Linked DNA regions of Homo sapiens. The protein of the gene in region 4 purifies or fractionates together with the protein of the main gene of each other region. This does not show direct contact. Each region holds a gene or a part of one and is shown on either strand. Other genes may lie near its edges.

Region 1 (4,916 bases), on a different chromosome or scaffold from region 4:
CCACCACACCCAGCCCAAGTCTACGATTTAAAAAAAAAAAAAAAAAAGAAAAGAAAAAAATTATTTTAGAGACAGGGTCTTGCTCTGTGGCCCAGGCTGGAGTGCAGTGGCACGATCACCACTCACTGAAGCCTCAACCTCCTGGGCTTAAGTGATCCTCCTGCCTCAGCCTCTCAAGTAGCTTGGACCACAGGCACATATCACCACGCCTGGCTAATTTTCTTTTTCTTTCTTTCTTTTTTTTTTTTTTTTTTTTTTGAGACAGAGTCTCTGTCACTGAGGCTGGAGTGCAGTGGCATGATCTCGGCTCACTGCAACCTCCACCTCTCAGGTTCAAGTGATTCTCCTACCTTAGCCTCCTGAGTAGCTGGGACTAGAGGCATGCACCAACACACTTGGCTAATTTTTGTATTTTTAGTAGAGACGGGGAGTTCACCACGTTGGCCAGCCTGGTCTTGAACTCCTGACCTTAGGTGATCTGCCATCTCGGTCCCCCAAAGTGCTGGGATTACAGGCATGAGTCACTGTGCTTGGCCTCTGCCCTAATTTTTAAAAAAATTTTTTGTAAAGACAGGGTCTGGCTATGTTGCCCAGGCTGGTCTTGAACTTCTGGGCTCAAGCAATCCACCTGCCTCGGCCTCCCAAAGTGCTGGATTACAGGTGTGAGCACCGCGATTGGCTGAGGCAGCTTTCTCTTGTTCTTGCCTGGATGGGGCCAGCTGCAAACGGAGCCTCGCTCCTCAGCCCCTGGGGGCCAGAGGCCAGGCTTCGGGGCCCCTGCCAGGACAGCCTCACTTGGCTTCCCCCAACTGAGGAAGGAGATGGCGCCTCCCTCAAAGGGAGCCCACTTGGGCTGCCCGGGTCCCAGCCCACCACTGCGAGCATGCAGAGCCTGGGTGTCAGGGTGCTCAGCAAACCGGGCAGCTGCTTCATCCCACGTCAGAGCCCCGGCACCCAACGCGCCAGGCCTGAGCCCAGCTGTCTGCGGGGAGCGTGCCGTGGCCAGCCTGGCCTCTGCACCCACTTCCCGAAGCCAGATTCCCAGCAGACGGTCTCCTGCGGGGCACCGGGCCAGCGGCATTCCTACGGTGGCCCAGCCACCTCTCTCCACCGGGCTGGCGGCCCCTCCGCCCCTCCCTGGCCCATTCAGAGAAAGAATGGGAACTGTCTGATCAGCAGCTGGGCTCTGACCAAATGGAATTTTCCGTCTGTGGTGGAAGTGATGTAAGGGCTCGGTCAGGCGAGGCGAAAACTGCACGCTGGGTTCCGCGGAGCACACGGAGAGGACTCAACTGCCACACATGTGCCAAGGGGGCTGGGGGCGACCCCCTCCTGCAGCCTCAGTCCCCCTGCCCCCACCCTAGGGCTCCTGGTCTCGGCCCTGGGCCACCCCCTCCTTCTCCAAGCCCCTGCAGCCCCACAGCCACAGACGGCATCCATGGGGGATGCCCCCTCCCACCGTGAGCCCAGACTCCCCCGACTGCCCCGCAGCCCCCAAAATGCAGCCCCCAAAACCCCACCAACTCTGGAAACACCCAGCCAGCCAGAGAGCCGGGGCCTGAAGCCTTACTCTGTCCCAGATCAGGTTGCTACCGATAGGATCCCAGTATACCCTGGGCCAGAGCAAGACCTCCCTGGCCTGGCAGGGATGCCTGGGGCACTGGCTGGTGAGGAGCGGGCAGGGCTGGGGTGTGGCTCGGGGCAGGGCTCTGTGGCCTCTACACCCAGGCATATGCTGTCCCTGGGCCTGGAGCCTTCCCCTTCAGGGAAGCCCCATTGTCCCCATACACAGGCCATCTCCTCCAGGATGTCCCCAGGATATTAGAGACCCAGGCCCAAACCCGGTGCTGCAGCCTTTGCTCTGTGTGAACCTCGGCTGGCTCCGCACTTGTAAGGCGAGACCCCCAACCTGACCTGGCTGCCTGCACAGGTGGGTGGCCCCAACCCAGCCCTGCTTGGAGAAGGGAGGGCCCAGTGAGCCACAAGGCCTTAGGACGGCCCACGGGGCACTTGAGCAGACGACGTGCACGAGCAGCTGTGAGGCCTGTGCCCCACGCCTGCCGCGGCCTCCTGGCCATGCCCACTCTGCCTCCAGGCCCTGTCTGGACGTGACTCCCATCAGCCACACAGACACAGGCACCCCCCAACGCAATGCCAGGCTCAGCGCCAGCACAGGCCACACCACACCAGGCTGCCAAGGTGGGAGGGCCATGCATGACAGCAGGGCAGGGCACACTGCCTGCCACCTGCACAGGTGGCTGCTGCTGGGCATCCTGGTGGCTCCCGGAGCACCTGGTGGCAGGACCTGGGCCTGGCAGCGTGTGAGGAAGCATGCCACTCGGGAGGGTGCACAGCAAGTCACGGCCGGCCTATGGAACACACGTCCCCCCCCACACACACACAGGCGGCTGCTCTACATGCACACGCCTGGGAGCAGCTGCCCACCCCGCTACCCTGCGCCACGGACCCACACGCCGCTCTGTGCCACCAACCTGTGGGCTACCGTGGCGCGTGGCTGGGCTGAGGAGGCCCTGGCCCACTGGGGGGTGCTCACAGGGACTCTGATGAGAAGTTTGGCCCGATGCAGCCTCCAGCCCCAGCCACAGGCAGTGGCCACGATCCCACCACCCTGCCATTCCAGCCACGGCTGCTCGCTCCTCGGCTGGACACTGCTGCGGGTCTGCCCTGAGCAGGGAGGGAAGCGAAGACATAGGGCCCGTGTCCTGGAGCCACGCTGCTAGGCACAGGGAGTTCCAGAGTCCACAGTCACACAGCGGGGGCGGGTGAGCTGGCAGGCCAGGCAGCGTGACCACAGCTGAGGATGATGGCTGCCCGAGGCATTGGGAGAGACCAGCGAGCCCCAGGGGTGCAGCCACGGGGCACGGTGAGCAGGGGTGGCAGGAGAAGCAGCCCCCGGTGGCCAGAGAAGGGGTGGGCAGAAGGTGGGTTCCAGCCCTGCCCCGCCCCTCGTGCCAGCTCCGTGTGGAAGTGACACAGCTTGGAGGAGGGAAAGGGACAGGCTCCACAGAGGCCACTGAGGGGCCAGAACCCCACCAGAGGTGCCGGCATGTGACAGACACACAATATGGTAACGGCCACACAGCCTGACTGCAGTGGGGACAGAGTCACCCCCGGCTTCCTGGATGGGGACGGAGTCCCCACACTGACGGCTGTGGTCCTGGCTGGGCTCCGGGCTAATTGGGAGCATCAGCTTCCAGGGCATCTTAGCAGCAGCTTGCGCTGGGTGCTGGGGCCCAGGCTTGGACAGACAGCTCGGCCGCGCTAGGTCGGGGGCTCCCCTGTGCCCACAGTGCTGGCCCCGTGAGCTCGGAGGCTGTGGGAGGCAGGAAGAGGAATGAGGCGGTCACTGAAACTCCCGTTGTGGGGAGCATCGTGGGTACCGCAACAGGTGGGGGAGGGCACTCTTGGCCCGGGGACAGTGTCAGCCAAGGCCTGGCACAGGGTCCAGGCGGCAAACGTCTCCTGCATGCCGAAGATACACTGGCAGCAGGGACCAGCCAGGCCCTGGCCTGAGCCTGTGCGTATGGCAGCAGCACGGGGCTCCGGGAGGACGTGGCAGGCGAGAGGTGGGAGTGGGAGGGGAGTGACCCCCACCTGCCTCCACGGATGCTGAACTCCAGCCCTGGAACTCCCAAGGCCCCTCCTCCAGAGGAAGCAACAAGGTTTGGGGGTGTCTGAGAGGCTGGCTGGGGTCCCACACCCCAGTGCAGACCGAGGGGTTCTGGCCCCCAGCACTGTGAGAACCCCCCAGGTGTCCTGGGCCAGGGTCAGGAAAGGGGCGGGATCCCTAGGGCCCAGACTTGTTTGGGGAGGCCAGGGTGGGCTCGGCGTGTGCGAGCCACTACCACCACCCCCATGTCAGGGGCCCGCCACTGGGAAGTGGGTCCCCCTACCTTTGCCTCGTGGGTCCCCTTGCACAAGTGGGGGGTCCAGGGTCACAGTCTTTGGCTAGGCCTCAGCCCCCCATGCGGCCAAGCTGGACACGTGGCCCCAGCCCCTACCCATAGCACACTCGGCCCAGGCTCCCAGCGACACTGGCCCAAAATTAAAAACAGATTTTCCACCAGGCTGGGTTTGGGTTTCACGCATTCCATGACGGTGAGCTCCTGGCCGTGCCTGGAGGACGTGCAGCCAGCAGCGGCCACGTGGGAGCCGGGGTCGGGGCCAACTTTGTGTCCCTGTCCCCAACTCCTGAGGTCCGAGGTCCAGGTCGCCAGGCTGCACATGGCCCCACACCCCCCGGGGCTCCCTCCGGGCTGGCCCTCACCCTCCAGGAATGGCCTGGAAGGAGGCCAGAGAGGCAGCCCTGGGGCTGAGGCTCAGAGCCGCTCCTGCCCGTCTCCCCACAGGCCGGGCCCCTTTCCTGCACCCTGTAGCCGGGGGACCCCAGCTCTCCCGCTGCCCACGCCCGCCCTCCCCCTCGTGCAAGGAACAGACACCAAAGAGCTGCAGCAAGCGTGTCTATTTTGGTCCCCGTGCTCCGACACATCTCCCAGCGTGACACCCGGAAAATCCCCTGCTCTTCCCACTTGTCTGCAGCCCTCTGCACCAGCTGCCTGGGGACCGGGCCCCAGGCCTCAGACCCAGCCAGGAGCCGCCAGACTGGAGCCCCATCTCCGGGATCAGCTCCCTACCAGGGAGAGGCAGCCCAGAGGGCACGGCCGAACCCCAGACACAGGGCTGCAGGGCTCAGAGCTGGGTGCACCCCAGAACTTCAGGAGTGCTCTTCCACGATGGCCAGGAACCCAGCCAGCGTGCACAGGCCCGAGGGGGGCAGAACGGCTAGGGGCACTGTGGCTGGTACCCTCCTCAGAGGCCGAAGGCACTGGCACTCTGTGGGTGGCCCGGCTTCCTCCCACACCCTCGGCCAACATGGGCCTGACCCAGCCACAGTG
Region 2 (4,916 bases), 6.9 Mb from region 4:
AATGTCATACCTCAAATACCAGCTGACTCAGTTTCTGTAAAAAGCAACGTGGCTCATTCCTGATACCTTCACAGAATTATAGTTAATTCCACAAAATAAATATTCTACTGAACTCAACCATAACTTAAAGAGGTCTTCTGATAGTAAGTGTAAAAGCGGTACTGTTACACTAAGCTCCAGTTTGCAAACTATGTTCACGTACAGTATCTTATTTGATCTTCCCGATACGCTATGAAGAAAAGGCAGACACAGACCTTCTCTGTTGTACAGATGAGCAAAACGAGACTCTGTAAGGTTAAGTGATTTGCCCCACGTCACAAGCTAGTATGAGAGCTGAAACTTGAACCCAGGTCTTCTGATTCCAAAACTATTATTCTTTCAACTATACTTCTTTACCTCAATGAAAATGACCTGTATTCCAATCAAAAAAGACCAGCTTTTTAAAACTGAGAATATGTAGACCAAAGGAAGCTAGTACATTAGGCAAAAAGAAAGATAAATTCTTTAAATGTAATCCAGTGGTTTTCCAAACACTGGATCACTTCTAAATGAGGTAACCCACATCAAGCTCAAATAACACAGTGGTGGACCTCAAAAACTGTTAGCCAGTGTCATCAGGCCTCATTGCCCTATGAGTTTGTAAAATAGTAAGTATTACTATTTGTATCAGGAAAAAAAAAAAAAGCAAGCTTATCAGTTACAGGGGAAAAAATATGTAACCTCTTTGTATTTTTCCTAGTAGAATCACACTTGAAATTTCCTTTGTTGGTTCTCTCCCCTACCCAGTTCCTCAATGTTTCTCTCATGAAAAGAACACCCCAAGTGGCAAAATATCTACACTGGTGAAAAAACTATAAACTATATCTAGAGCAGAGAAGAACAAGAAGGAGAAAAAAATAAAACTTTCATGTGGAAAGAAGAAAAGAACACGGTGCTGTTAATAAGAAAGGATAAGCCCAGTGCTTACAATCTTAAGAAACATTAAGAGACAGAGAGGCAGACACACAAGCAAGAAGTGTTTTTGCTTTGTTTTTTTTTGTGTTTTTTCTGATGGAGTCTCGCTCCGTTGCCCAGGCTGGAGTGCAGTGGCACGATCTCAGCTCACTGCAAGCTCCGCCTCCCGGGTTCATGCCATTCTCCTGCCTCAGCCTCCTGAGTAGCTGGGACTACAGGCGCCCGCCACCATGCCCGGCTAATTTTTTGTATTTTTAGTAGAGACGGGGTTTCGCCGTATAAGCCAGGATGGTCTCGATCTCATGACCTCATGATCTGCCCGCCTCGGCCTCCCAAAGAGCTGGGATTACAGGAGTGACCCACCGCGCCCGGCCGCTTTGTTTTTTTAAAGCAAATCTTTTGGATTTCCTAGCTTAAAGGGTACTAACTGTGTGGCAAAAGTAAACCCAATACTCTTATCTGATCTTTCCCCAATCAGGCCACTGTTGGCTTCAAAACACTATGTTACATACAACTTTAGTGAAAGTATATTTAAACAGTTTTCTGAAAAACAAACTCTATAAAAAAAACTAAAAGGGTACAGTTAATGTGTGACCCAAATGACAATATTAGCTACCGAAAGGAAAATACTGAACTATGATAAAATGATTGAAGTAGACTTGACCTTTTCAATCAAGTTGGATTCCTTATTTACAAGTTGTGTGAGTTTCTGCAGATTTGCATCTACCGTTTCTTGTCCAGCTGGAGAGATGCCTAAGAAGCCAGGACAGAAATCAGAGAAAGACAGGAAATTTTTAAAGCCTTTAAAGCTATTTAGATTGAAAGAATTTTGAGTCTACCCACCCTGTCCAGTGCCCCACCCTCCCCAAAAAAGGCAAAGAGGAAAACCATTCTGGGTTTAAAGGCGAAGAGAGGGATTCGAATGCTCTAAAACTAAACCCTGAGCAAAACGGACAAAAATTTATCCACTAAGTAGACACTGCTAACCAAGTGTTCTGCAATTGGCCACAATAATTAGTTTTTTTTTTTTTTTGAAAAAAAAAGCACAGTAGTCCTCATTTCCTTCTCAAGTTTAAGCTATTCCTTTCTCACACCCATTTCAAATAGGTCTTTGGTCACAACTATCTGGATAGTTTTCTAAGGCAGTAACTCCCAAAAAGTTGCCCACCAGACATCCAAAGTATTCAGAAGAACTTAAAAATACAAATTCCTAGGATTGATGCCTAAAAGATTCTAATTTAGTAAGTCTGGAATAGGACCCAAGATTTTTTATCTGTCAAATAATCAGGTTTGCTAACCACTGCTCCCAAGTTAACACGGTTGAACATTACTTAATTTCATGACTCCCAAACTACTAACCCCTTCCTGTATACAGAATACATAACCCACCAAAAAATAATAAACTGTCCACCTAAGCCAGCTATCTTTATAACCTGTTTCTTAAAAGGACAATTTCAGCCAACCATCCCAATAGAAATTTAGTATCTGAATCACTTAAGCACAAGGCTCCACTCTCTCAATGAAGCACATCCTAAGTAACAGGTGCCCTCTATTTACTATACTTCCATTCTGATGCAATCAGTTTTCAAGTAGTGGAATCATGGCAGTGTACCTCACCAAAATCAATCTGCTGCTGATTTCTGTTCATGCAGGAAAATGCTAGAAGCAGCAGGTAAAAATCATTTAAAGTAATTGTCCATTTGCATTAGGATAAATACTGTTTTTCAGCAAAGACTTAATACCTGTGGTTTTAACCTTTTAGAAGAAAATGACCCACTTCAAAGGGGTAATATTTAAAGAACAAGAAGAAGAAACGTAAAAATCCAGCGGAATAGATAAAAGGCAAATATCTATTTATCTATTTAAATAAGAACTAACATGAGAATAAAAATGAAGTCGGAAAAACACAAATCCTTGAAGTGCTATAAACCACTATTTAAAGACAATACACAAACTTCTAAAATTAAAATAAGTAGTGGATTTTGCTTATACATACATAGGAGAATATGCAAACAAACATTAGCTGAAAAAGAGCCAGCTTACCTCCAAGACTAAGCCTAAAATAACTGCTCAGGATGTCATCACAAAAGCGACAGAGGTTGGAGAGCTGTTTCAGATGTTCTTGTAGCTGAACTTTAGGAAACCGTACTTTGTAAAGAGGTGCAAGAAAACCAAAAACATAGGCATCCAAGGTAGAAGGCCTAGAAATAAATTAAGGATTTTTAAAGCACATAAGACAATATTAACTGAAGGCCGGGTGTGGTGGCTCATGCCTGTAATCCCAGTACTTTGGGAGATCAAGCGGGGGCAGATCACTTGAGGTCAGGAGTTCCAGATAAGCCTGGCCAACATGGTGAAACCCTGTCTCTACTAAAAATACAAAAGAAGTCGGGCGTGGTGGTGGGCACCTGTAAACCCAGCTACTTGGGAGGTTGAGGCAGGAGAATTGCTTGAACCCAGGAGGCGGAGGTTGCAATGAGCCAAGATCATGCCACTGCACTCTAGCCTGGGCAACAAGAGCAAGACTCCATCTCAAAAAAAAAAAAAAAAAAAAATTAAATTAAGGATTTTTTTAAGCACATAAGAAAATACTAACTTGGGATGGTGTTTAATTTTTTTTTCAAAATTCTCAATTCTGAATTACACAGTATAGTCTCTTAAAAGGTTTACTATCCATTTCAGTTTACAAAAATTATGCAACCAAGGTTTTACTCATTGAGTAGCTTAGACTCTAGGAGAAAATGAAATTGTCTTTATAGATTCATTTTTACTCACAAATGTTAGACTGGAGGCAGAGTGGGAACAGTCTGAGATGTTTTAAATTCACATATGCAGCCTATTAAGTCAATGTTAGATTATCACTGGTAGAAAAAGTTTCCTATAATAAAAGCCCATTAAATTTTTTTCTTGTTTGTTTTGGTTTTTTGACATGGAGTTTCACTCTTGTCACCCAGGCTGGAGTGCAGTGGCGTGATCTCAGCTCACTGCAACCTCCACCTCCCAGGTTCAAGCGATTCTCCTGCCTCAGCCTCCCAAGTAGCTGGGATTACAGGTGCCCACCACCACACGCAGCTAATTTTTTGTATTTTTAGTAGAGATGGGGTTTCGCCATGTTGGGCAGGTTGGTCTTGAACTTCTGGCCTCGGGTGATCTGCCCAACTCGGCCTCCCAAAGTGCTGTGATTACAGGTATGAGCCACCACACCGGCCTAAATCTTGTTTTTTTTAAGTAAAAAACTCATCTTTTGGGGAGATAAGAGGACTTGCTTTAAATAGCTGCTCACTGAATATATGTGCACAAAATACCAAAATGATTTTTAAGGGAATACTCACGTATCTCCAAAGAAAAACTGAGATGTTCCCAATCTGTTTGATAGAAGATTTAGGCACTCCTTGGCATCTCTGTATATCTAATAAGGATGAAATTATATCTCAAAAGTAGAAAAGATACTCTAAAACTACTTTTGAGGAAGGCATCTCTAGGTAAACTCAAGTCTGCATTTTATCTTGTCCTTTCTCTCTAGGGCCCTTGCTTGAAGAATAATCCATACTATACCTGTGCTTCCACTTCTCGGAGGTGGTAGAGGGGAGGCTGTCCTCTGGTCAGGAGAATCCTATTCAGTGCTCCCTTAGACATTCTTCCAGGCAGGATCAAACTCAAAGGAAAAGGAATTTGTGAAGCAAACCATGGCTTTGTCACAGTAAAGTAATTGTCACTCTCAACCCAGAATGTGTGAAGCTGCAAAAGAAGAGAAAAAACACTACAAGGATGTTCTTTTATTAAATGAAAGATCACTCAATCAACATGAGAGTTTTTCATAAATATCTTTATATGAAGTGTCTTCATACAAATTTTCCAGTTAGAATGACTCAGGATAAAACAAGATTATTTTAAATGTGTGAGTTTTGTTGACTGCTATCTTCCAAACACCCAGAACAAGGCCTGACACATAGCAGGTGTTC
Region 3 (5,638 bases), on a different chromosome or scaffold from region 4:
TGGTGGAAGGGGCAAGGAAGGTCTTCCAGGTCACTTTTATACAAGCACTAATCCCATTCATGAAGGCTCCACAGGAAGAAAGAAGATGGGGGTAGAAGGAGGAAGACAAGAGGGAGAAGGAGGTGCGTAAAGAGAAAATAACTGAAGACTTTTAAAAGGAAATAGGATTACTAGACAAGTATAAGAGAATTAGTAATGGTTAAATACTGTATCTCCTTGTTCTCACACTACATTCTACTCTCAGTCTATACCCTTATACTACTGAGTCCTAGGAGAACTTAATGTGAATTTTCTCTAATTTTTAACTTTAATTTTTCACTAATTTCATAGTGAGGAGATTTGGAACATACAGAAAAGAAAGGTCATACCAGAAAAAAAAATGTAGCGCTTTCACTTCCAATTGGTTCTTAATTTTGTCTCAGGACTTGCCTTGAATTCTTTTCTCTTCCCTGGATAATTCTGGAACACTTAGTAATGGTTAGCTATTATATTCCTTATACCTATTTCTACATTCTACTCTTATTTCTACATTCTTTCCATCTAAAATCTAAAGAAACTTAAACAGAAATTTGTTCTCTTCTAAATGCTCAATTCATTACAAATGCTTGGAAACACGGAGATGAGATCAAATCAGATGAAAATTTATAGAGATTTTGCTTCAAGCTGAGTATTTGGCTTAGATACAAACTACTACCTTGAAACTTTCCACCGAAGAGTCACCCCACAGTTCTCATTTCTATGCTCAAGTAGCCAATGTCCTCACTCCTTGACATTACATAAACCCCTGACATGCCTCTGAAATTTTCTCCCATAAAGGTTGACTGTGTAATCCTAATTCTATCCCATGTGTGATGGTTAATTTTATGTATCAACTCGTCTGGACTAAGGGATGCCCAGATAACTGGTAAAACATGATTTCTGGGTGTGTCTGTGAGGATGTCTCTGGAGGAGGGTAGCATTTGAATCAGTAAACCAATTAAAGAAGACTGCCCTCACCAAATGGGTAGGCATAATGCAATCCTGTGGAGGATGTGAATAGAACCAAAAGGCAAAGCAAGTGCTACGTTTTGTTTGTCCCCACAAAAACTCATGTTGAAGTCTGATCCCTGATGTGGCCGTGTTGGGAGGAGGGACCTAGCAGGAGGTGTCAGGGTTACGGAGGCAGATCCCTCATGAATGGCTTGGTGTCATTCTTGCAGTAGTGAGTGAGTTCTCTCTCTCATGAGACTGAATTAGTTCCCTCAGTAATGGATCAGTTCCCTCGAGGCTGGGTTGCTATAAAGCCAGGACACCCCTCGGATTTTGCTTCTTCACACATGTCCACTTCCACTTTGACTTTCCACCATGTTGTGACACAGCAGGAAAGCCCTCCCCAGGAGTCCAGCAGATGCCAGCACCACGCTTCTTAAACTTCCCAGCCTGCGGAACTGTGAGCTAAATAAATGTCTTTTCTTTATAAATTACCCTGTCTCAGATATTCCACTATAGCAACACTAAATGGACTAAGACAGGAAATGAAAAGGAATTTCACCTGCAGAATAGGAGACTTTACAAAGACTGATACCCTGAATGAGCGAGGATGTGGAGAAGCAAGCACTGTCAGTCAAAAGAGTGAAAATGGGTCTAAGGTTTCCGAAAGGCAATACGTATCCCAGTTTAAAATGTGTGTTACCTTCAGACTCAGCAATGTCCACTCCTCAAAATTTATCTTACGAAAGTAACTGGACCAGAATGAGAAAATGAATACAAAGGACATCCATTGCAATTTCACTTACAATCGTTTTTAAACTATCAATAAAGTAAAAGGTGATTTAAAAAGAATTGGTAACATATACTATGACACAAACATATAACAGAATATGATGCAGTTACGTAAAAATGGTGATACAGCAGCAATTCTCAAGCTTTTTGATCTCAGGATCCCTTTACAATCTTAAAAATCATTGAGCACTCCAAAGAGCTTTTGTATATTGTAGGGACCATGGAGTTGTACCACTGAGATCTCCCTTCAAAGGCACCTACTGTGAGGAACACAGTTGACTTCCACTCTCTAGCCTCTAACCCTGGCATCTGCTGATGCACTGCAGCAAGGTCGTCCCTTTCCTGGGCTGCTTCCAGCCAATGATTGGACATGGTGGGGAACTCCAACTGGGCCATTTCTGGGACAATCAGCACAAAGTACCAAAAGTTGGTTCCTTCAAAGTATGAATAAAATACACAAAACTTTGGCAAGATTGAAGGGGAGAAAAGGATAGATATGAGGAATGAAATAGAGAACCTACCTACAGATTCAGTCAGAAGTGTTATAAAATCATCGGTGAGTATTATGAACCTTGGACAGAACAGGCAGTTTCAAAAAAAATTGTAACTTACTAAATCTGACTCTAGAAGAAACAGTAAACTGAAGAGGCCTATAACTACCAAAGACATTAAAAGAGAAGTGAAATATAACTATATAACAGTTGTTGGCCCTCATAGTAACCTAATCACTTTCCCTCTTTGGATAAGAGAATGCCAGTGTCAGGGAACGCTTCAACAGGGTTGGAGAAGTTCCACATATCTCCACCCTACTAAAGGGGCAGAAGTTCAGGGGCACAGTTAAGATGACTCAGAGAAAATGAAATTGCTCAGTCGCAGGTCAAGTCAACCCTTCAGATCAATTTATGTACCTAGGGCATTAACCTAGGAATGTCTTAAACAATGGAATGCCGCCATTCCTTCTCAACAGGAAGTGGGGGAAACACGCGATTGGTTTTCAAACAGTTTTCAAACAGTAGACAATACACATAGCTGCTGTAACAAAGCAGCTTCGAAAGAGATCGAATGTGTGCGCCTTTATACAAAACTTGGGACCCACTGAAGTCTGACAGCTAAAACGGATTACATGTCTGCAAGGTATTAAAACAGAAAACAAAGAACCTGGGATGGATTCAGGACAAAAGTGTCTTAAAAATTTAACAGTGCCCGTGGGCCAGAGTGTCCACAACACTCATTTTATCTGGACAAATACCAGTAGACTTTCGTATTATGACCCACTTCTGTTACCGGGGTCGCCGGTCGCGGCCCCACGCCCGAGTTTCTGAAGCCACCGGAGCGCTGGGCGCCACAGTTCCTCCTTCCTCTCCTGGCAACGCCTCAAGCCGCCGCCCTCCTCGGTCCTCGCAGTGTCCCCAGCGCCCGCAGCCCTCCCTACGCTCAGGCGGCGCCCCGGCGGCGACCCACCTCCTCGGCGTCCTGGCCCAGAGGGATGCCCAGGTTCCTGAGCCCCTCCTGCAGCTCGCCGATGTCCACCACTCCGTCCCCATTGCGGTCCAGTGCCTGGAAGAGGGTCTCGTAGCGCGTCGGCTGCTCCGCGTCCTGGCAGGCCGCGGTGGGCAGCACGAAGTCCCGCAGCCAGCGCAACATGGTCCCAGAGGCGCAGGCGGCCTGGCCGAGGAAGTCACGGGAGATCGAGGGCTGCGGGGCGAGACCGGGACCAGCGCGAGGCCGGGCTGGGCGGGGCGCGCGGCGCAACAGCGTTTGGGGCGCCGTCGGGGTTGCGGCTGCGGCGCGCAGGGCGCAGGGCGCAGGAGCGGAGACCCCACCCGAGCCCGCGCGGAGCGCAGGGTGTGGCCGTCCCGCCGCTGCTGGGGAGGAGCTCGCCGCGCTGGCCTCGGCGGCACTGGCCGGGCCCGCCTCCAGAGAGCCGGAAGTGAGGGAGCTGGGAGCTGGGTCTCGGGAGGTGCTGTGCGGACCCGGGGTCGACCTCTGCCCAGTTGCCAGTCCCGCTGTCAGCATGCGGGTCCGAGGAAGAGGCCCCCAGCAGGTCCAGGGCTGCAGCGTCAGCGCGTCGGTGGCTTGGGAGCGGGGTCTTGAAGACTGGTTACTCCACTTAAAGACCCTCTCGGGCCGGAGCCTTGGCGGTCAGCCCAGAGCTGCTTCTCTCTGCCTGGAAACTGGGCCATGGAGGGCATTGTCTCTCACGGATGTCTAATTTTTTCGTGGTTGCACACCTGGGATGGCGATTCTGCTTTAAAAAGCAGAGAGTTAAATCCTAAAGCATCTATTGGAGCAATTATAAAACAAAAAGGAGAAACTCCTGGATTTGTTGCAGAAAAGATCAACAGCCATCTGCGTGGGCAACGGGGAAAAGAAGGACTAGTTTGGTAGGCAGCTTAGCTAGGATTTGCCCGTGATTAAGCGTATAGAGTGTCTGCCAGCTGCACTTATCAGAAAAAACCACAGCGCCCTCCTCCTTCTCAAGATGGGTGCAGTTCCGAGGTTTGGAGCTTATTACTCAGGCAAGACAGAACTTATTACTGCCTAGCATGGAATAACGGAAGGAACATTGGACTTAACAGAGAAAGTACCTAATCCTTCAGGTGTGACATAGCGTCTCCGGGTAGTCTCTCATCAGTAAAATGAGAATATAAATATCTGCCTTCACAACAAAGTTGTATATTAGGTGTGAAAGGTCTTAATTCTCTAAGGCGCCAATCAAATGAGATATCATTAATTGTAATAATCCTGTTCATTCACAGCTGCGTAAGAGGAACTATTGTTGTACTGCTGTTTGCAGAAAAGAAGATACCTCTGTACTTGTAAATTAGGGTGTCTCACATCTTCTGAATCACTACACAGAAATCAGTTCCAACAACAGCCAGGAACTCAGACCCTGAACTTACCTCTCCTCATATCATTTTGTATGTTTAAGATATGTATGAATCTAGAATTTGTAAATTAAGGGCTGCCTGCTTAGTAAAATCATCTTGAAACTGATTTATCTTTTTATATTACTTCCAACTTCCAGTCTTATTAAGAATCATTGCCTTCCTTTGGAACTGCCTTCAAACTTCAAATTTTCTCTGTCCTTGAAAACCTCTTTTAATCTCTACTCTGAATACTCTGTACTTGAAGAGAGGTTGCTTGAACTAGTCATCTTACACTTACATGCTTTCATTTTACTTTTTATTTATTTCTTTTTTTTTTTTTTTTTTCTTTGAGACAGTCTAGCTCTGTCGCCCAGGCTGGAATGCAGTGGCACAATCTCAACTCACTGCAACCTCCGCCTCCTGGGTTCAAGCTATTCTCCTGCCTCAGCCTCCTGAGTAGCTGGGGCTACAGGCTATTTTACTTTTTTAAAAAAGTAATACTTAGAAAAATTACCTGTCAGCGTTTTTGCTGAGAAAATTATCTTCACACCAAAACTTTTACTTGAGGGTTTATAGCAGTTCTATTCATAACTGTCAAGCGCAGAAACAAAATGTTCTTTAACGGGTGAACTGGTAAACAACCTGTGTTGCATTCATACAGTGAGATAGTAATTAGCAATAAAAAGGAATGAATTACTGATACCTGTCAACAATGACATTCTGGAAAAGGCAAAACTATAGGGACAGAAAACAAATCAGTAGTTACCAGTTGTGACTAGCGGGAAGGGAATTGATGACAAAAGAGCATCAGAAGGCTTGTGGGGGTGATGGAGCTATTTTACATCTTGCTTTTGGTGGTAGTGGTTACACAACTGCATGTGTGTGCCAGCAGAACTGCACACTAACATGGGTTAATTTACTCTGGGATATCAATAAATCTGACTTAAGCATGAGTAAAATGGAATAAAAATTCTCAAAAGATCAGTGTGAACATCAAAACAGTTTAT
Region 4 (4,916 bases):
CTTGTGTGTTTTTGAGAGGTGATTGGCCTGCCCTCAAGGGTTACTTCACAGGTTCTTTATTCTACAGTGTGTAATGGAAGTGAACACAACCCCAATTCCTCTAACCTACCAAGACCTTCTAAAAAAGTAAATGAGAATCTCAGGACCGCTATTATGCTTTCTCACCTTTAGATTAGCAAAACGTATTTTAAACTCTCATTGCCTTCTCCTTGGAGAAGGAAGGGGAGATGGAATTAATGCATTTTCTGAAGGGCTAAATTCCCTCTGGGAAATGATTGAGGCTGCTGTGGCTCATGAAGGGTAGAGAGTGGAGCCAGTGGCCAATTGCCTCTGTGGTGTTTCTTCATCATGCAAATCAGTGCCCTCGGCTGGTGTTGAGCTGAGAGAGTTGGCTCTGTGCTCCGCACTGTGTTCACTGCCAGATGCAAATCAGTCCATCTAGTCCTTCCTTCTATCTGTCCTGTGATGCAAGAACTGCCTGGCCTGCAGTTTACAGCTGTGGCGGCTGAGGTCAAGGAGGTCGCCTAGCTTGTTCAGGTTGGAACCCCCATCACTTTAAAGAATCCTATGCCACCCTAAGCAAGCATCAGACATGCTAGGAGTGTGAACCACTACAGGGAAGTAAAGCCCCATCTTCTTCATTTTTTCTGAACTGTTATTGCTATTGCCAGCTTCTCAGAGGCTTTCACCAGGCCCCCAGCAGTGGTGCTGCCAGAGCTCTACACTGTTCTGGTCCACTTGTGTGGTGCATTTTATATTGGAATCGGAATACAAATTAGAGTTTGCATCTGGTCCCTAGTTTCTCCTCAAAACATGAGGATGTATTCTGGAGTGAACAGTAGCCACAGAAATGCAAAAACCAAACTTCTTTGGGTTCAACCTTCATCTGTATGGGTGAAATTTTGGTAAATAACAGTTAGGGGCTGTAATATGGCTTACTGTCATTTGCTCAGGGGCTGAAACTACATTTGAGGAACAAGGCACTTTAGCCAACAGCTAACTTGTGAATTAAAGTTGTAGGCTGAAAACGAGAAAAGCTTTTTCAGCAGTAGACACCCCAGAGGAGGGAAAGGAGCTTGTTAGCAAACAATTCACAAAAAGGCTTGGTCTTAGACTTGCTACAAAATATAGACCTGCTTTCATACCATAATTGTCAGCACTCTGGATTCTGAAATGTAGGCCTACTTTTAAAAAATTTGTGGTAAAAAAAAAAAAAAAATATATATATATATATATATATAAAGCATAAACAATTTAAACTGCTTTTTGTTTCGTTTTGTTTTGTTTTGAAACAGAATCTCACTCTGTCACCCAGGCTGGAGTGCAGTGGCATGATCCTGGCTCACCACAACCTCTGCCTCCCGGGTTCAAGCAATTCTCCTGCCTCAGCCTCCCGAATAGCTGGGATTACAGGCGCCTGCCACCACGCCTGCCTGATTGTTTTTTCTTTGTATTTTTAGTAGAGACAGGGTTTCGCCGTGTTGGCCAGGCTGGTCTTGAACTCCTGACCTCAAGTGATCCACCCGCTTCGGCCTTCCAAAATGCTGGGATTACAGGCGTGAGCCACCACGCCTGGCTTTTTTTTTTTTTTTAAGACAGGGTCTTGCTCTGTCACCCAGGCTGGAGTGCAGTGGTACAATCATAGTTCACTGCAGCCTAGAACTCCTGGGCTCAAGCAGTCCTCCTATCTCAGCCTTCCGAGTAGCTGGGACTGCAGGCGTGTACTCCCACATCTGGCTAAATTTTTTCTTTTAATTTTTTTGAGATGAGATAGCGCTGTGTTGCCCAGGCTGGTCTCCAACTCCTGGGCTCAAGCGATCCTTCCTCCTCAGCTTCCCGAAGTGGTGGGATTATAGGTGTGAGCCACTGCACCCAGCCAAACCGTTTTTAAATGGTTTAGTGGCATTGAATACAGTCACAATGTTGTTCAACCATTATCATCATCAATTTCTGGAACTCTTCCATTATCCCCAACAGCAACTCTGTACTCACCAAACAGCAATTCCCACTCCCTTCCTCCTCCCGAACCCCTCCTAGCCCCTGGTAACCTAGTCTACTTTTCTATCTCTATACATTTAATGGGCTTACTTTTAAATTTTGGAGTTAGCAGCAGGTGTGTTGACCTTTTATATAGATGGGCCAAATATATAATTAATTTTGCTTTTGCTAATTTGCTTCCATTTATTACCCACCTGTTGTCAACTAAATATTGTTTTGCCTTAGGTGACTCGGTAATAATATTTCCACCCCCTCCACCACCTTACTTTCCTGAATCTTCAGCTTCTGCGGTCGCTGAGAGTCCTGGAACTAACAGTCTGCTTCCGAATGAAAACCCCCCTTCATATTACAGTATTTTCAACTATGGGTAAGAATTTCAATTTGAACTTCAAGAGAGGCCTGAATTCAGGCCACACTAGTATTAAGGCTGTGTGGTTCACCAGGAGGCATTCAAGTGTGAGTATCTTTTTTGCTGATGTTATGTCAGAATTAGTGTCTTGATATTAACAGTACCTTTGCCGAAATTTGGGCAGCACATAAGTTAAAAATGATAAAGTGATCATGCTGGGTTAATATGAAGCCTACTCCAGGCATCTATCTTTATGTGCTCCTAACAGGGGTGATACTCAGAATGTTTAACAACCCTTGCCGGGTGCTGTGGCTCACACCTGTAATCCCAGCATTTTGAGAGGCCAAGGTGAGTGGATCACTTGAGCTTAGGAGTTTGAGACCAGCCTGGCCAACGTGGCAAAACCCTGTCTCTACGAAAAATAGAAGAATTAGCTGGGGATGGTGGTAGGCACCTGTAATCCTAGCTACTCGGGAGGCTGAGGCATGAGGATCGATTGAACGCAAGAGACAGAGGTTGCAGTGAGCCTGTTACCGGCGGAGGGTGTCCACGTACTTTGTGTTTTGAACAAAGAACTGGACAAAATGCACAAACGAAGCAAGGAAAGAATGAAGCAACAAAAGCAAAATTTTATTGAAAATGGAAGTACACTCCACAGGGTGGGAGCAAGCCTGAACAGCTGCTCAAGGGCCCAGTTCCAGAATCTTCTTGGGTCCAAATCACCCCTAGAGGTTTCCCATTGGCCACTTTGTGTTCACCTCATGTAAATGAAGTGGTGGCCCACAATCCGTCTGATTGGTTGCAGAAAGCAGCCAATCAGAGGCTGAAGTGAAGTTACAAAGTTGTTGTCCTATGCAAATGTCTGATTGGTTGCAAAAAGCAACCAATTAGAGGCACTTTCAATTTCCCATCTGCCGAAAGGTGGGTGTTTGCAAAGGGAGTAGTCTTTGGTCCTTTTGTTACTCAGGGGTGGAAAGTTAGGGTTTTCCTTTCAATTTAGTTCTAGGAAGTCAGCGTGAAACGGCCGTAGATTCCCTGCCTCCACACCCTATTCTTCTGCTCCAAGCCGAGATCGCGCCACTGCACTCCAGCCTGGGCAACAGAGAGAGACTCTATCTCAGGGGGAAAAAAAAGAATGTTTAATGACCCACCAATCAGACTGAGCACCAGGACTGGGCCAGGAGGCCCCTGCTATGCTAGGCTTCACTGCTTTAGATCATGGAGAGGTGTGAGGGTCTCAGGGGATCCCCAACAGTTACAGAAGGGCTTTAGTACTCTGATGGCCGTGCTTGGGTGACTGGCTAAAGTCAGCCTGAGCCCCGATCCAACACAACTGGGCCTCTCCTTCAATATTCGCTCCTTCCCTGGGCCGCAGAGAATATCAGGTCAATACCCACCCCACACAGAATGCAGCGAGGCAGGCTCTAGTGGGACGGGCCTGAGGTGCCAGGAGCCTGGGGGAGGGGGTCTGGATGGAGAATGACATTGAGGAAGAGGCGAAGATGATGAGTTCCAGGGTGAGTGACAGGGAAGCTCAGAGGTCCCCAACTGAGAAGACGTGAGTGATGAGCTTGGTTTCGGTGGGGAAAGGATGGTGGGCGGCTGATGGTGGCGGTACAGTGAGATGAGGGCCTTGGAGGCAGACTGGGAAGGGCTGGGTTTTGGGAGAGAGAGGAGGTGATGGAGATGGAGCTGCAGAGGTTGTTGGAGAACCAGAAGGGCAAAGAGTCAGGGACTAGTGGGAGACCCCCAGGAGGGGCTTGTGCATACCCCAGAAATGGTGTGCTCAGGGAGCAGGGCTGGAGAAGGCTCTGGTGGTACCTTCTAGAATGGGAAACCAGGGTTTAGGAAGGGAAGGAAGAATTGCTTCACATTGTCACAGGGTGAAGCAGGTAAGACAATGAGATATGTGCATTTTTGCATGCAGTGAGCAGCAGGCACAGAGAGACTGGTGCTCATTGCTGGGGATAGCACCACCTTACCTTGTTATTCGTGTTTAAGGAACTCCCTCTCCACCCTGCCTTGACAGAGCAGGCAGTGGGCCTTGGAGCAGGGGCCAGGGTGCCTTTTCTCTGGGGCCTGGAGGGAATGAAGTTGTGTAGAGATTCTTTTCCCACAAAAGCAGGGGGACAGGTTATCTGATGGGAGAGGGAAAGAGGTGGCTGACAAGGACAGAATTGGCTTTACAGCTTCATATGGGGTCGTGATGGGGGGATCCAGGGAGGTGCATGTGGGAACGGCCCTGCATGGAGAAAGGGCAGGCTAGGGCTGGACCTCTGTAGAATTCTCATCGTGAATGTTTGTATTTTTTTTCTTCTAATGATAAACTTCCCCAAACCCTAAAATCAGTGTCTAGTAACTTAAACTACTGCTGCTGCTACTATGATTTCTGTGTCCTAGGGTCTGGCTTTTCTTGCATTAGTTTATGTAACTCCCATATCCAGTCTAGGAGAAAGGAATGTTATCATCTTCATTTCAAGATAAGGAAACTGAGCTTTAGCAATGTTAACTAACTTGCCCAAGATCACACAGCTGGGAAGCAGCAGAGTAGATTCCAGTGCAGGTTGGC

The links.
Region 1: the proteins of TMEM171 (region 4) and TTYH3 purify together in Homo sapiens (affinity purification with mass spectrometry; 3 studies listed by BioGRID and IntAct, with this or other methods). This does not show direct contact.
Region 2: the proteins of TMEM171 (region 4) and MTX3 purify together in Homo sapiens (affinity purification with mass spectrometry; 3 studies listed by BioGRID and IntAct, with this or other methods). This does not show direct contact.
Region 3: the proteins of TMEM171 (region 4) and SLC25A24 purify together in Homo sapiens (affinity purification with mass spectrometry; 3 studies listed by BioGRID and IntAct, with this or other methods). This does not show direct contact.

The regions. Positions count from the first base shown.
Region 1 is NC_000007.14:2,637,880-2,642,795, reverse strand, and holds part of TTYH3 (protein tweety homolog 3), read right to left. Parts: intron 1-4,916. UniProt on the Homo sapiens protein: Calcium-independent, swelling-dependent volume-regulated anion channel (VRAC-swell) which plays a pivotal role in the process of regulatory volume decrease (RVD) in the brain through the efflux of anions like chloride and organic osmolytes like glutamate.
Region 2 is NC_000005.10:79,983,953-79,988,868, forward strand, and holds part of MTX3 (metaxin-3), read right to left. Parts: intron 4,693-4,916; coding exon 4,510-4,692; intron 4,364-4,509; coding exon 4,287-4,363; intron 3,156-4,286; coding exon 2,998-3,155; intron 1,708-2,997; coding exon 1,619-1,707; intron 1-1,618.
Region 3 is NC_000001.11:108,196,734-108,202,371, forward strand, and holds the start of SLC25A24 (mitochondrial adenyl nucleotide antiporter SLC25A24), read right to left. Parts: upstream 3,611-5,638; 5' UTR 3,406-3,610; coding exon 3,223-3,405; intron 1-3,222. UniProt on the Homo sapiens protein: Electroneutral antiporter that mediates the transport of adenyl nucleotides through the inner mitochondrial membrane. Originally identified as an ATP-magnesium/inorganic phosphate antiporter, it also acts as a broad specificity adenyl nucleotide antiporter.
Region 4 is NC_000005.10:73,126,167-73,131,082, forward strand, and holds part of TMEM171 (transmembrane protein 171), read left to right. Parts: intron 1-2,223; coding exon 2,224-2,365; intron 2,366-4,916.